Linked DNA regions of Homo sapiens. The protein of the gene in region 3 interacts with the protein of the main gene of each other region in a pairwise test. Each region holds a gene or a part of one and is shown on either strand. Other genes may lie near its edges.

The links. Proteins that work in one complex are often made in the same cells at the same time.
Region 1: the proteins of SFMBT1 (region 3) and ZCCHC10 interact in binary tests that used the Homo sapiens proteins (3 or more experiments, as listed by UniProt).
Region 2: the proteins of SFMBT1 (region 3) and HOXB9 interact in binary tests that used the Homo sapiens proteins (3 or more experiments, as listed by UniProt).

What each region holds. Positions count from the first base shown.
Region 1 is NC_000005.10:133,002,550-133,009,549, forward strand, and holds part of ZCCHC10 (zinc finger CCHC domain-containing protein 10), read right to left. Parts: intron 4,372-7,000; coding exon 4,210-4,371; intron 817-4,209; exon of another isoform or gene 548-816; intron 1-547.
Region 2 is NC_000017.11:48,620,656-48,623,358, forward strand, and holds the end of HOXB9 (homeobox protein Hox-B9), read right to left. Parts: intron 2,481-2,703; coding exon 2,245-2,480; 3' UTR 501-2,244; downstream 1-500. UniProt on the Homo sapiens protein: Sequence-specific transcription factor which is part of a developmental regulatory system that provides cells with specific positional identities on the anterior-posterior axis.
Region 3 is NC_000003.12:52,923,997-52,931,206, forward strand, and holds part of SFMBT1 (scm-like with four MBT domains protein 1), read right to left. Parts: intron 7,040-7,210; coding exon 6,945-7,039; intron 6,435-6,944; coding exon 6,333-6,434; intron 4,346-6,332; coding exon 4,195-4,345; intron 2,118-4,194; coding exon 2,035-2,117; intron 1-2,034. UniProt on the Homo sapiens protein: Histone-binding protein, which is part of various corepressor complexes. Mediates the recruitment of corepressor complexes to target genes, followed by chromatin compaction and repression of transcription.

The DNA.
Region 1 (7,000 bases), on a different chromosome or scaffold from region 3:
CAAACATTTTTTTGCTTACATTCCTAATAAAATAATTTCTGGAAAACTCATACTTGCAATTCTAAGTTTTAATATTTGCAAAGGGCATATTATATACATATTATAAAAAGTTCTACAATAATTTAATACCTATTATTCACATAAGAACATATGAACATTTTTAACAGCTGATACTTTTTCTTTTTTTTGAGGTGGAGGCTCGTTCTGTCGCCCAGGTGGGAGTGCTGTTGCATGATCTTGGCTTACTTCAACCTCTGCCTCCTGGGTTCAAGCAATTTTCCTGTCTCAGCCTCCTGAGTAGCTGGGATTACAGGTGCCCGCCACCATGCCTGGCTAATTTTTGTACTTTTAGTAGAGATGGCGTTTCACCATGTTGGTCAGGCTGGTCTCGAACTCTTGACCTCAGGCGATCCACCCACTTCGGCCTCCCAAAGTGTTGGGATTACAGGTGTGAGCCACCACGCCCGGCCTTTTTTTAAGAAACAGGGTCTTGGCAGATACTACTTAGCCCAGGGCCTGGTGGCTAGGCTGGTTGTCTCCTTTCCAGTTGGAGGCTTCTGCTGCAAACATTCTCCGCCAGATCATGGGTCAGGCCAAGAAGCATGCGAAGTTGATCCCCCTTTTTGTATTTATTGGAACTGGAGGTATTGGAGCAGCACTGTTTCTCTCGCCTCTGACATTGTTCAATCCAGATGTTTGTTGGGACAGAAAGACTAACCCAGAGCCCTGAACAAACTGGGTCCCAATGATCAATACAAGTTCTACTCAGTGAATGTGGATTACAGCAAATTGAAGAAAGAAGGTTCAGATTTCTAAATGAAATGTTTTACTATAAAGCTCCTTTAGAATGAAGGTCTTCCAGAAGCCATCCGCACAATTTTCCACTTAACAGGAAATATTTCTCCTCTAAATGCATGAAATCATGTTGAGGTAATCTACTGGAGATTACACTGATTAATAAATAACTGAAAGTTGAAAAAAAACCCAAAAAACCCAGCATCTTGCTATGTTGCCTAGGCTGTTCTTAGACTTCTGGCCCCAAGTGATCCTCTTGTCTTGGCCTCCCAAAGTGCTGGGATTACAGGCATGAGCCACAGCATTTGGCTGATAGTATAAATTTTAATAACTATTACATTAAAACAAACTTATTGGTAATGTGTATATATATATATTTTTGGCGAGATACAGTCTCACTGTATCACCCAGGCTGGAGTGCAGTGGTGTGATTTCAGCTCCCTGCAACTTCTGCCTCCTGGGTTCAAGTGATCCTCCTGCCTCAGCTTCCCAAGTAGCTGCGATTACAGGGTGCACCACCGCACCTAGCTAATTTTTGTATTTTTAGTAGAGACAGGGTTTTGCCATGTTGGCCAGGATGGTCTCGAACTCCTGACCTCGAGTGATCCACCCACCTCGGCCTCCCATAGTGCTGGAATTACAGGCATGAACCACTGTGCCCAGTCCGGAAATGCATTTCTTAATGACAGATTTTTTTCTAGTTTATGTATCTATAAATAAATATTTCTTCATGGTAGAATGTGACCAGGTTTGGCATCAATTAAATTCCTATTTTTAAATTTTATTTTTTCAATAGAGATGGCTCCTTGGGAATTATTTCTTATTTTTAATTTCTTTTTTTTTTTTTGAGATGGAGTTTCGCTCTCGTTGCCTAGGCTGAAGTGCAATGGTGCAGTCTCGGCTCACCACAACCTCCGCCTCCCGGGTTCAAGTGATTCTCCTGCCTCAGCCTCCCAAGCAGCTGGGATTATGGGCATGCGCCACCACGTCTGGATAATTTTGTATTTTTAGTAGAGACGGGGTTTCTCCATGTTGGTCATGTTAGTCTCAAACTCCCAACCTCAGGTGATCCACCCGCCTTGGCCTCCCAAAGTGCTGGGATTACAGGCATGAGCCACCGCGCCCGGCTTAGTTCTTATTTTATTTTTATTTTTATTTTCTGAGACGGAGTCTCGCTCTGTCACCCGGGCTAGAGTGCAGTGGCGCGATCTCGGCTCCCTTGCAAGCTCCGCCTTCCGGGTTCACGCCATTCTCCTGGCTCAGCCTCCCGAATAGCTGGGACTACAGGTGCCCACCACCACGCCCGGCTGATTTTTTGTATCTTTTTAGTAGAGACAGGGTTTCACTGTGTTAGCCAGGAAGATCTCCATCTCCTGACCTCGTGATCTGCCTGCCTCGGCCTCCCAAAGTGCTGGGATTACAGGTGTAAGCCACCGTGCCCGGCTTAATTCTTAAGTGTTACATATTTAACCTAGAGAAACCCTAACCTAAATAGATTGATTGGAATGGAAAGACTTTTGTTATTTCCATGTCACTCGATTCTCTGCATTCCATCTGTTATATGCCACAAGTCACATAATAATATTCCATTAAAATATGCTTTTTAATTGACAATTCAATTAGGTCATCTTCAATTTTGTTGAGGGAAAAACCTTAAAAAAGAATTTACTCTCAGCTGGGTGCGGTGGCTCACGCCTGTAATCCCAGCACTTTGGGAGGCCGAGGCGGGCAGATCATGAGGTCAGGAGATCGAGACCATCCTGGCTAACATGGTGAAACCCAGTCTCTACTAAAAATACAAAAAATTAGCCAGGTGTTGTTGCACGCACCTATACTCCCAGCTACTCCGGAGGCTGAGGCACAATCACATGAACCTGGGAAGCAGAGGTCGAAGTGAGCTGAGATCGCACCACTGCACTCCAGCCTGGGTGACAGAGCAAGACTCTGTCTCAAAAAAAAAATTTTTTACTCTAAAAAATTATGGCCAGCTGGGCATGGTGGCTCATGCCTATAATCCCAGCACTTTGGGAGGCTGAGGTGGGTGGATTGCTAGAGCTCAGGAGTTTGAGACCACCCTGGGCAACATGGCAAAATCCCATCTCTACCAAAAATACAAAAAATTAGCCAGGCGTGGTGGTGTGCATCTGAAGTCTCAGCTACTGGGGAGGCTGAGGTGGGAGAATTACTTGAACCCAGGAGGTGGAGGTTGCAGTGAGCTGAGACTGCACTCCAGATTGGATGACACAGTGAGACTCTGTCTCAAAACAAACAAACAAAACTATTATGACCATTCACTTTCTCAGCACAAACACCACTATTCTGCCATCTAGGTTTTTATACGTGAGGACAATACACTAAGGTATGTTAGAGATGGGTGAGAGGTATACCTTTCTTTTGTGAGATTAGAGAAGCGTTGTTAGAAAAGGGGAAGTAGAAAAGGAGACCAGTAGGCAAGTTCTCATCAGATTTGTTTTAGGAAGAATTGTATATGAATGTTGATAATCTAGAAATTGGTTATCTATTCCTGCATAACGCTTGAAGAACTTTCACGTCACAAATTGGAAGACTGTTGCCTTGAAAGTCTAAATATTTAAGACACTATTATACAGCTAACAGCCCTTAGGAAGATGCTGCTTTTTTTTTTTTTTTTTTTTTTTTGAGACAGAGTCTCCCTCTGTTGCCCAGTCGGGAATGCAGTGGCACAATCTCAGCTCACCAAAACTTCCACCTCCCAGGTTCAAGTGATTCTCTTGCCTCAGCCTCCTGAGTAGCTGGGATTACAGGTACCTGCCACTATGCCCGGCTAATTTTTGTATTTTTAGTAGGGATGGAATTTCACCATGTTGGCCAGGCGTCGGCCTCCCAAAGTGTTGGGATTATAGGTGTGAGCCACCCCGCCCAGCCAATTCTTCTTTTTATAAACATAAATCATAGCATATTATATATTCTGTTCTCTACCTTAATTAATATACCTGGTACTTCTTGGATAGCTTTCCATGTCAGCTCATATAATCTATCGGTTAATTCAATTGTCATTTCATTGACAGTTGAGGCAAAAAAGCAAAATGATTAAGACCATGAATCTGGGGGACAGGCTGCATGATTTAACACTTACTTTTTCTTCTTACTAGCTGTATGACAATGAGTAAGTTATTCAACATCTCCTTGCTTTAGTTTCTTCATATGTAAAATGAAGACAATAATACTACCTACCTTAATAGTGTAGATATCAGGTTTAAATAAGCTAATACTTATAAAGACCCTAGAATAGTACTTGGCACACAGTAAGCATCTATTAAACATTAGTAACATTATAATTAAAATCTGGAGAACCACCATGAAACGTTTGGTCCTTTAATAAATTCTATATACACATTAAAAAAATATTCCTTTGGATACCACATGTAAACCTACCTTTGTTGCAATAATAATCTGTTTTCTTTTTCTTTTAAAGCTTTCTTTAGTTCTGCTGTCCTTGAGGGCCTATGTAGGTATTTTCTTTTTCCTGTGCATTCATAAGTCCAATGTCCAAATTCCAAGCATTTCTGACATCTTACATGTTGCTTATTTGCTTCACTACAGAACAAAAAACAGAATACAAGCCTTAAAATTCTGTCTTGTGACTTTCACCCTAAAAACTATAAAAAAATATAAAGGATAAAATTATGTTTACTCTTATGGTCCAATTCATAAAAATCAACATTTTACCCTTGTGAGATTTAATACAACAAAGTATAATAAGTGTAATGACATGGTTTGGCTGTGTCCCCATCTAAATCTCATCTTGAATTCCCACATGTTGTGGGAGAAACCTGGTGGGAGGTAACTTAATCATAGGGGCAAGTCTTTCCTGTGCTGTTCTTGTGATAGTGAATAAATCTCACAAGATCTGATGGTTTTAAAAATAGGAGTTTCCGGCTGGGTGTGGTGGCTCACACCTATAATCCCAGCACTTTGGGAGGCTAAGGCAGGCGGATTACGAGGTCAGGAGATTGAGACCATCCTGGCTAACATGGTGAAACCCCATCTCCACTAAAAATACAAAAAAATTAGCCAAGCGTGGTGGTGGGCGCCTGTAGTCCCAGCTACTCAGGAGGCTGAGGCAGGAGAATGGTATGAACCCGGGAGGCAGAGCTTGCAGTGAGCCAAGGTTGCACCACTGCACTCCAGCCTGGGCAACAGAGCGAGACTCCGTCTCACAAAAAAAAAAAAAAACAAAAAACCACAGGAGTTTCCCTGCACAGTCTCTCTCTCTTTTCTTGCTGCCGTCCATGTAAGATGTGACTTGTTCCTCCTTGCCTTCTGCCATGATTGTGAGGCCTCCCCAGACATGCTGAACTGTGATTCCAATAAACTTTTTTGTTGTGTAAATTGCCCAGTCTTGGGTATGTCTTTATCAGCAGTGTGAAAATGGATTAATACATATAATAAATGGTTAAAAGCATAGACCTTGAAGTTAAGATACAGTTGAATTCAAATCTTGGCTCCTCAATTCTGTTCCAGTTATGTGAGACTAGGGCATTCAGACTACTTTCCAGCTCAGAACTAGAAAAGACCGTCAAAACATTTTTAACAAGCTTCTTTAAGAATCGGAAAATCAGCCAGGTGTGGTGGCTCACACCTGTAATCCCAGCACTTTGGGAGGCTAAGGCAGGCGGATCACGAGGTCAGGAGATCGAGACCATCCTGGCTAACACGGTGAAACCCTGTCTCTACTAAAAATATAAAAAATTAGCCGGGCGTGGTGGTGGGTGCCTGTAGTCCCAGCTACTGGGGAGACTGAGGCAGGAGAATGGTGTGAACCTGGGAGGCAAAGCTTGCAGTGAGCCGAGATTGCGCCACTGCACTCCAGTCTGGGTGACAGAGTGAGACTCTGTCTCAAAAAAAAAAAAAAAAAAAGAATCAGAAAATCAGGCCGGGAGCAGTGGCTCACGCCTGTAATCCCAGCACTTTGGGAGGCTGAGGCAGGTGGATCAGGAGGTCAGGAGTTTGAGACCAGCCTGGCCAACATGGTGAAACCCTGTCTCTACTAAAAATACAAAAATTAGCTGGGCGTGGTGGTGGGCACCTGTAATCCCAGCTACATGGGAGGCTGAGGCAGGAGAATCATTTGAACCTGGGAGGCGGAGGTTGCAGTGAGCCGAGATTGCGCCATCGTACTCCAGCCTGGGCAACAGGGTGAGACTCCATCTCAAAAAAAAAAAAAAAAAATCAGAGAATCAACAAGGGGGTCAAGCTGACCAGCTGAAATGGCTCAGGTCTGTAATCCCAGCATTTTGGGAGGCCACGGTGGAAAGATTGCTTGAGGCCAGGAATTTGAGACCAGCCAGGCAGGACAACACAGCAAGACTCAATCTCTACAACAAATTTTGAAAAATTAGCCAGGGCCAGGCCTGGTGGTTCACGCTTGTAATCCCAGCACTTTGGGAGGCCAAGGGAGGCAGATAACTTGAGCTCAGAAGTTTGAGACTAGCCTGGGCAACATGGTGAAACCCTGTCTCTAAAAAAAACTACAAAAATTAGCCGCGTGTGGTGGCAAACAGCTGTAGTCCCAGCTACTTGGGAAGCTGAGATAGGAGGTGCAATTGAGCCCAGGAGTTTGAGGCTACAGTAAGCTATGATTGCACCACTGCACTTCAACTTGGGTGACAGAGGGAGATTCTCTTTTTTTTTTTTTTTAAAGATGAAGTCTCACTCTGTTGCCCAGGCCAAGAGTGCAGTGGCACGATCTCGGCTCACCACAAGCCTCCCAGGTTCAAGCAATTCTCCTGCCTCAGCCTCCTGAGTAGTTGAGACTACAGGCATGCACTATCACGCCCGGCTAATTTTTGTATTTTTTGTAGAGGTGGGGTTTTGCCATGTTGGCCAGGCTGGTCTCAAACTCCTGGCCTCAAGTGATCCACCTACTTCGGCCTCCCAAAGTGCTGGGATTACGGGCATGAGCCACTGCACCCTGCCTGATTCTGTCTCTTAAAAAAAACCAAAAAAGATGGCCAGGTGCGGTGGCTCATTCCCATAATCCCAGCACTTTGTGGGGCTGAGGTGGGCGGATTGCTTGAGGTCAGAAATTCGAGACCAGCGTGGCCAACATGGTGAAACCCGTCTCTACTAAAACAAAAATTGCCAGGCTTGGTGGCACACACCTGTAATCTCAGCTACTCAGGAAGCTGAGGCAGGAGAATTGTTTGAACTTAAGGAGGCAGAG
Region 2 (2,703 bases), on a different chromosome or scaffold from region 3:
CCTCTGTCTAGACCTAGGCACCCTACTGCAGGGAAGAACAGAGGGAAATTACTGTGTTCCTCCCTTGCATCATATTTTAAAGCGGCCAAACTAAGGTGACATTCTCAGTGGCTGAGGGAGGAGAGCTACCCCCAGGAGGTGCAGGAAGACCTACCTTCCCTCCTATTCTCTAGTCAATGAGGAGGTTTCAGGACCTCATTGCTCCCCAGACCCTGTGCCCTCTCCAAACAACCCACATTTCCTTCCCTCCCCGCTCGTTTTCCAGTTCTCCTGTTGGAAGGCTCTTGATCAGTTTAACCAGTAGTCTTGGGACCTGGGGTCTGGGACTGGCTCTCAGCTCCACCTCTAGAGAGCTCTGCAGGGGACCTTGCCCTGCAGGGTGTAAGGAGAAACCTCCTGGACTCAGCAATCTTTTTTTTTCCAAGCCTTTCTCCCGACAACTGGGATCTCTACCTATGGTCAGGCCCAGAGAGCCAACACAGAATAAGACACAGGAGAGATTTATTTTCTAGAGTGATATATATTTTTTGTTCTTTTTCTTTTTTTCTTCCAAAACAAACAATTAGAGCTCTAGGCCCCTCGCCCTCCCCACTCCCACCCAGAACCCTCCCATATAATCGACAACTGAAAACAAGCGAGACAATCACCCCCAAAGAAATCACGAAACACAAGCACAATTTCACGACAGCCACCGACAAAGCAAAAAACTTCTACTGGAATGTCCCCTTGCAGGATCAGGAGAAGCAGGAGCAAGAGTCTACAAATTGAAGGGGACTGAGAAGTAGGGGAGCAGGGGGAGGAACGGAAGCAGAGAGTAAGCTTCCATCTGATGCTTAGGTGCCATTTTGCCCCTTTCCTTTGCACGCGGGACTGTTTCCCAGAAGCGCGCGCACGCACCAGCCACGCAGATCTGCATCCAGGCCCATGAAGCAGGAGGCCAAGCCCGGCCCTGGGGCGGGTCTCCTTTGGCGCTGGGGCTAGAGCCGCCAAGCCCGGGGCTTCTCTGCGTGGGTCGAGAAGCCGACGGGATTCGGAGGAACGCGCAGAGCGTTGCGCGCTGGGGCCGTTGCTCCTCCCTGTCCCAGACCACTTGTCCCGGAAGGGAGCTTGGGAATCGATTCACAATAAATTCTCATTCGGACTCTCCTGGCCTGGCTTTCCTGTCTACAGTGGGGTTGACCTAGCGGGGAACGGAAGGTGGAGGGATTTTTCTACAAGGGGCGGCTTGACTTGCGGGTGCAAGGTGGATACGACCGAAGAGAGTTGATTTCAGAGCTAGGGAGGGTGCGGAAGAATGCAGGGCCGGTCGAGAGCAAGAGAAGCTACAGTCTGTCAAGTGGTGCACAGATGAACAGGAGGACAACATTGTCAAGGCTCTACGACCCACAGTTTGACCTTCTTTTGTTGGAAGGAGAGGGAAACATCATGCGGAATTAAACATTTCCTGCAACAAAATGTATATGTTGGTGGGAGGTGGGGAGTAGCTCCACCTAAGATAGCTTCATAAAACCACGTGCTGCCTTTTCTTGTACTTTCTAGCCCACCGGCTTGGGGGCTAGGTTTGCTCCATCTTCCCCATGGCCCTTGGCCTGAGAATAGTTGGCAACTCCATGGGAATGGTATGGCAATGCTGCAGCCTTTGGGCTGCAACACCTCACTCAGGAGTCTGCCTCTAGACATCTCCCTGGTGGGTATTTGCATTAGGGGTAGAACCCGGGCTTGCCTGACAGTCTGAGGGCTGTTTTGCCAAATTTGGTGTGCGATGGTCTGCAACTGGAGTGTCACCTCACTTGACTGAATGGTGGTTGTGAGCTCACCCCATTACTGTGTGTGGATGTCTGCTGAGCTGTGTAGAGTTGGAGTGTCCCTGGGTGACTTTTGGGTGGGTGTAGAGAAGAAACAGGCAAGCTGGAAGTGAGGGGCTAGGACTTCCCAGAAAAATTACAGGGCATACTAGGAGCTTGACTGGGGTCTCTCTTTCCTTGTGGCCCATCACATTCTTAGGAACCAACTATTTCTATCTTCTAAATCAACAAAACTTTCTCCTGACACCTAGAGAGAAGAGAGAGACAGGTAAGGGCAAAGGAAAGGAGGGAGGTTCTAGGTGCAGATAAAGGACTTGGAAGAGAGACTCCCTTCCCCATTCACTTGAATACATCCCAGACAGCACTGGCTTTGCAGTCGTCACATAACTAAGAGTGAGATGGGGAAGAGCTAGGGAGGACTGGGGGTAATCTTTAATCTTTACTCTTTGCCCTGCTCCTTATTCATTTTCTTCATTTTCATCCGCCGGTTCTGAAACCAGATTTTGACTTGTCTCTCACTCAGATTGAGGAGTCTGGCCACTTCGTGCCTACGGTCCCTGGTGAGGTACATATTGAACAGAAACTCCTTCTCTAGCTCCAGCGTCTGGTATTTGGTGTAGGGACAGCGCTTTTTCCGGGAAGAGCGAGCGTGCAGCCAGTTGGCGGAGGGGTTGGCTGAAAGAGAAGCAGCGATAGAATCAAAGAAAGGAAGGGGGTGAAGGGCCCCAGATCAAGAGGGCACTCCCTTGGTCTCCACTCCCCATCTTGCACTGGAGAAGAGGCCACCTGGGTCTTCAAGCTCCCAGGAAGGGTGTCACAGATGGGCCAGCCATTGCTATAGACACCTCCAGGTGAGAGGCTGTGTGGAAAGGATGGAGCCAAACGTGGGCCCAGGCTT
Region 3 (7,210 bases):
AAGAACAAAAATAAAAATAGCTTTATAGCTTTTAACTTCTTGATAGTAACACTAGAAGTTAGAAAACAACTGAGCAATGTTTTCCGAATTCTCAAGCAAAATAACTTCCACATTGAGCCAAACTATGAAGCAAGTCAGTAGAGTGAAGACATTTTCAAATATACAGTGTCAAAAAAAATTTACTTCCCTTGTACCCTGTTACAGGAAGGTACTGAGAGATGGGGATCCATCAAAACAAGGAAGCAAACCAAGAAAGAGGAGGCCATGAGATCTCTACAAAACAAGGGACCCCAAATCATACAAAAGGGGAGTGGGCAATTCCCTGGGTGACAAGGGCATTTCCATGATTAAAACTACATGGCAAGGCCGGCACAGTGGCTCACACTTGTAATCCCAGCACTACGGGAGGCTGAGGCGGGAAGATCATCTGAGGTCAGGAGTTTGAGACCAGCCTGGCCAACATGGTGAAACCCAGTCTCTGCTAAAAATACAAAAATTAGCCAGGCATGGTGGCGGGCGCCTATAATTCCAGCTACTCAGGAGGGTGAGGCAGGACAATCTATTGAACCCGGGAGGCGGAGGTTGCAGTGAGCTGAGATCGTACCACTACACTCCAGCCTGGGCGACAAGAGCAAGATTCTGTCTAAGAAGAACAAAAAACAAACAACAACAACAACAACAACAACAAAACCCACAAAAACTACATGGCAAACCTTTAAAGAGCAACCCATCCAGACAGAGAGTGGAGGTTGCTAAGAGGGATGTCTCTTTAACAAAAGTGTTAGGAATGACAGATTTCTTGATGTGACTGCTTTTGATAATGAGAGACTACTGGGAAGTGTGGACAGCAGCAGCAATAGATAAAATTAAGTAAATTAAAAACAAGGCAATTATTATTGAGGATAAAAATTTTTAAAAAGAAACAATCATAAAATACTGCAGTGCCAGGTGCAGTGGCTCATACCTGTAATCCCAGCACTTTGGGAGGCTGAGGTGGGCAGATCACTTGAGGTCAGGAGTTCGAGACCAGCCTGGCCAACATGGTGAAACCTCATCTCTACTATAAAAATGAAAATTAGGCGAGTGTGCTGGTGGGCGCCTGTAATCCCAGCTACTTGGGAGGCCGAGGCAGGAGAATCTCTTGAACCCGGGAGGCGGAGGCTATAGTGAGCTGAGATCGTGCCACTGCACTCCAGCCTGGGTGACAGAGCAAGACTCTGTCTCAAAACAAAACAAAACAAAACTGCAGTGCTCAGCTGTAATATCTGAATGCATATCATAATGTAAAAACTCATTTTGTATTTAACCAAAAATTGTAATATAACTCTAAAGGAAGAAGAATGTGGTAAGACAGAGAGGAAAGGTAATAAAAAATAATTAAATGCTCATTTATCATAATTTAGAACCAACAGACTCAGCACCATAAGACAGGGTGAATTTAATTTGTTTTAATAAAGTCAAAGTTTTTAAATTAGAACCAAGTGACATGTCTAAAATAAATGACTCAAAAGATAGAAGGTTTTTATTTTGAAAATGAAGAAATACAAATAACTAGAATTACAGTGAGAAGAACAGGAAGTAGTTATTTCTGGGAAGGGAGACTGTGAAACGGGGTAGGGCAGGGACTGCTATTTTACCTTCTAAGCCTTTTACTGCTACATGGCTCTTTAAACCACATGCATGTATTATTTGGATAGAAGAATTTAAATAAGCTTAACAATTTTTCTCCACTTAATATTTCAACAGTTTTTCCTATTATTGAACCATGAAAAATAATCATAAAATTTCAAATTCACGATTTCAGCTAAGAAAAAATAAAACCAATAAACTTATAAAACTAACTTAATTAGCAAACTAACTGATTCACTTCTGCAGTAAATGTATTTTCCTTTAGACCATGTGATTACAATCACCACTGTGCTCATCTGGATTAAGTGAGATGATTATCTTCAGAGCAATAACATGGAAAGCAAGGGAAGCACAGCAGTCCCTGCAGCCCTGCCATAGTGGCCATGAGGCCGTGGGGGTCCTCACCGGAGGGAAGCACCTCTGGGGAGCAGCTTCAGCACCACACTGTTTGAGGTAGTCAGCCCAGTCAAAGTCCTGGCTTGGGTAGCCTAGGTGGGGACAAATGAACAATGAGTCACACTACCACACCACATACGCCTGCCTGGCTTCACCCCTCACCAAGGGTCCACTCACAACTTCCAGTGATGCTAGTCTGACAACTTTGATCATTTTAGAGGGGCGAAAAGCATTCTATAAATCTAGAGCACTGTTAATTTTATAAAATAGAGCAACTCTGGTCAAACTGTAATAAGACAATCAGACTCTGGATAAATTTGTAAACTTTCAAATTTCAAACTAGGCATTTATTTTGAGCACTATTTTATATGATTAGTTGCTGGCAATTTACCAAAAGAATTTAAGACAGTTATGACTGGATTTGATTTGTATATATAAATCCACTCTTATTGTCAATTCTAAAGGGACTCGGGCTCTCAAGGAAAAGAGACAGCAAATAGTATTAGTTAATCTGCAAAGACGAAGACTTTTTTTCTTTGTTAAAGCTGTTTCCTGAAATGTGTCTCAGATATCACTGATACAAATCCTCTTGTCATTTTCAGATTCATATATTACAGAATATCAATGCTTTTATAATCTAAATCATGTATTTATTTCAGAAAAATCAAGCTTAGCACCCCACTTAAGTCTACTGAGGTTCTTGATGGAAGCATCTCCAAGCTGCTGCTGACTCAGCACCATCTACATGCAAAGAGCTGAGCGAGGCCCAACTGCCTACTGTGTCTGAGTTGCTCTCAGCCTCCAGAGAGCTTAATGTCTCACAGGCAAAAAAATAGGCTACTCAAGTCTATGCCCTCTGACAGCCCAACAGTCCCTGCCTACCGAAGACTGGCACCATGTTCTCCCTTTGCCCCAACCTCAATGCCTGACAGTACATTTTCTGCCATTTTCAGTTATGTAATCTACTACCTTCCCTCTATTTACAAAGACACAGTTGATTTGTCTATAACAACACTGAAAGCTTCAGTATTTTTAACAACTGTTCCTTCTTTTTCACATAGAGGTGGCAAGCAGAATAAAGAACTTGGGATATCTAGAGCGTGCCTGCAAAGCAAGAACTTCCTTCTATGGCTGTTCTACACCACACCCTCCAACCAGGCATTCATCTGCTGTGTTCACTGATGGAGGAGACTCTAGGAAGTTCTGTTAATATTTCCCCCTATTTGCCCCTTGAAGGGACCGAGTTGTACTCATTGAGCTTGTCACTCTCCCCAGGGATAAGCTCAATGCCTGGCTTACAGCAAACTTCACATGAATGTTTGTTGAATGAATAAAAGCTGAATGGAAGACAAAGGTTCTGAGTTTATGACCCTTGTTAACAAGAAAGAGTACTTCCAGCCCAGTGTTCCAGCAGTCACCATTTAGAAAAGTGATGCTATGCTTTACTGAAAACCTACTAATAACATATATAGACTGCCAATCAAATAATCTGATTTGCTAATATTAAAAAATCAGATAAACATCTGACATATTCTAGATTCTCTAAGTTTAAAAATATTAAAAATTTCAGTCAAGCTCAACTAACCCATTAATTAAGGGCCTTGATTAAAGGATCAAAGACTATATTTTGCAAAGTTGCAAATATCAGGAAAATGAGCTTTTATTTTCCTACCTACTCCCTGAGTTCTACTCTTCACCATAAACTTCTCTGTAGAAAGTCCCCTCCATGACAAGGCTCAGACACCTAAAGATAATCAGTAATCTACCTTCTAACTCTGGCTCTACGGCCTCTTCTCACAAGCCAGCCCCCAGTGCTTGCTGTGCATCCAAGCTCACCCCTCTGCCACCCCTAACAGACATAAAAGGGACTAAGGAGCCAGCACGAACCCAGGTTGGAACCTGGTTTTCCAGGGGGTTATGAGGACATAGATATCAAAGTCAGAGGATAGAACGCACTCTCTTTAACAGTTTTTTAGCTCAGTTTGTAACTTTCAAATATGTAAATACATGGAATCTAGACCTTTCCTTATACTTTTCTCAGACCCCAAAAACGTTAGGAACAGGCTAGGGCAGGAGGAGAGGGACAAAAGATTTCAGCAATGCCATCTGACATGTCTCATTTCAAGGAGAAGCTCTCAAGTGACAATTCAGAAGACAGCGAATGTGCACCTGGAGGGGGGCTGATGTGTAGGCCATTCTTCAGACTCCACTGCACAGGGAAGATGCCAGGACTGTCGGCGTGGCACACAAAGGATCGCCGTGCGTGGTTCTCAGGACGCAAGTCATCCATTTCCACCAGAAAGTACTTCTCATCAAAAACCTATACATGCAATTAATAGATGAAATAGACAAATGCACACATATATATGTGCTTTCTCCTTGGCACAGCCAAACATATTACAAAAGTTCATACTCATGTGGGTATTAATAATACTAAACACTAAATGTTAGCTCTGTGTTATGTAATACATATAATTACTGTTTTAATTAAATGCTTTTCATGTATCAATTCAGTTTTAATCTTAACAACTGAATGAGGTAAGTACATATACATATATATACATATATACATATATATACATATATACATATATATACATATATACATATATATACATATATATATATATATACACATATATACATATATACACACACACACATATATATATAGTTTGTTTGTTTTTTTTTGGAGACAGGGTCTTGCTCTCTTACCCAGGCTGGAGTGCAGTGGCATGAATTTGGCTCACCGAAGCACTGCAGTCTTGACTTCCTGGGCTCAGTTGATCCTCCCACTTCAGTCCCTTGAGTAGCTGGGACAACAGGCATGCACCACCATGCCCAGCTAATTTTTTTTAATTTTTGTAGAGACTCGGTCTCCATATATTGCCCAGGCTTGTCTCAAACTCCTGGGCTCAAGCAATCCTCCTGCCTCAGCCTCCCAAAGTGCTGGGATTACATGCATGAGCCACCACACCTGGCCCAAGTACCTTTATCAACTCCATTTCACAGATAAGGAGAATGAGTTCAAACAGAGGTTAAATAACTTGCCCTGGGTTACAAAACAAAGAAGAAGCAAAACCTGGATCCAAAGCCATGTAGTTTGGCTCCAAACAAAATTTATTCTAAGCTTAGTGACAAACTTAGTTTAAGCTTATGCTACTATGTATTAGTTTTTCAAATCCTAGCCCAGTTTCAAATGCCAAAGAACGAACTTTATTTATTTATTTATTTAGAGACGGAGTTTCGCTCTTGTTGCCCAGGCTGGAGTGCAATGGCACAATCTTGGCTCACCGTAACCTCCGCCTCCCGGGTTCAAGCGATTCTCTCACCTCAGCCTCCCGAGCAGCTGGGATTACAGGCATGCACCACCATGTCCAGCTAATTTTGTATTTTTAGTAGAGATGGGGTTTCTCCATGTTGGTCAGGCTGGTCTTGAACTCCTGACCTCAGGTGATCTGCCTGCCCCGGCGTCCCAAAGTGCTGGGATGACAGGCGTGAGCCACCACACCCGGCCAAAGAGATAACTTTATGAACTTCCTCTGGCTTCCCACTAGCCCTCCCTTCAGACTCTAGGTAGGGCCTTCTGGCCCCACCTGCAGGCTCAGAATCCCTCCTTGCTTTGAGAATAATCTTCTTCCAAGACAGGGAAAACTTAAATCTCAATAGGTCAGAGGATTTAGCACCCAGGCAACTATTCCTCTAGTCACATTCAACTTTGGCTTCTATTTTCAGTAAATGTCCTTCTGCTCTAGTTGGAAACTGAAATTCTCTCGCCAATGCCTCAGTTGTAGTGACTGAGCAGGGCCTTGATAACCTTACTTCTTAGTTTTGTCAGTATTCCAAAAGATTAAATCTGAATCTGGAATACATAGCTGGAGCCAGTCCACTGCCAGAACTTTTAACACTAACTGCCTGATCCCCATTCATCTCCTCATTCCAATGAGCTCTGCATCTGGTTAGACGTTGATGAGACTGCCTGCCTCCAACTTTACAGATACCCTGGCCTCCTAAAGGAGTTAAATCTCCTTTACTTATATGCAGCTAGGCCTGCCCCAAAGAATGCGTCCCCTACTAGTCCAGTGCCCAGGCCCAAGGCTGCTTTGGCTAGGGCTACCAAGCTCTGAAGGAGGAATGGGCCACAGCAAACTGGACAAATACAAAACGTGCACAGAAGTAATTCTAGCTGCACGGCCTAGAAGGAAAAATGGGTTGGATCAATAGAGCTTAAAGATCAAAACACTACCCATTTCCTAAACCAGTCACCTTGACAGGGATTCTTACCAAGAGAGTTATCTCCATTTTACCTTAACAACTGTAGCAGGAGAGATCCCAAAAGGAGACCAGGGGTCTACAGCTTCCAATTTCATGTTTACAGAGAATGTATGAATGCCAATAACTTGTTTGTCCTGAAATGCAGACACCAAAAGGGGATGAAAACATAGTATCTGTATCAATCTTACACTCACATGTAGCTGTGATTAACAGAAATGTCCAGCTCTGGTAAATCCTATAGTTTTCTTCTTTTTTTTAAATGTGCAAAACTATCCAATATAATTTTCTACTCTGGAAAAAACTATCCAGGAAAAAACAAAACACACAGAAGTGCTTCTACTCTCTACATTCAAAGACAAGGAATATCTGGAGAAAAAAACAAATTTATTTTATCAGTTAAGACTATGTAGTTAAGGGTAAAAAAGAAAAGGTTCAAACTACTTTAGGAGAACTTGGGGAGAAAATCTAGACAACTGTTAGAAGAAAACAAGGATGATCATCAGTCCAGCCTTAACACACCCTCCTCCTTCAGAGACCATGGCATTCTTACCGACTGCAGGGGCTGCTTTACACTTTCACCTCCTGCGTTGCTTTACTCTACTGTAAGGGGAGCAATACCGGTCTATCACATGTTTTGTTTTTACCTTAAATAAGTAAGATGGTAATGGCTCTTCCTCTTCCTCTTTCACTTTGGCCAAAATCTCTTGCCACTCAGCTTCATTTTTTAGATGTCTAATGGCTTTAATAAAACATGACAACATGCTTTAGATGATGAGAAACTTATACTTTTTACCTGTCCTGAAAGCATTCACATAAACAAAAACAAGTCACTTTCCACTGGAACTAGAAAAGGGTTCAAGCCCACTTATATCCCTTTACATTCAAAGAACTTGCACCTTAACTTCAGTAC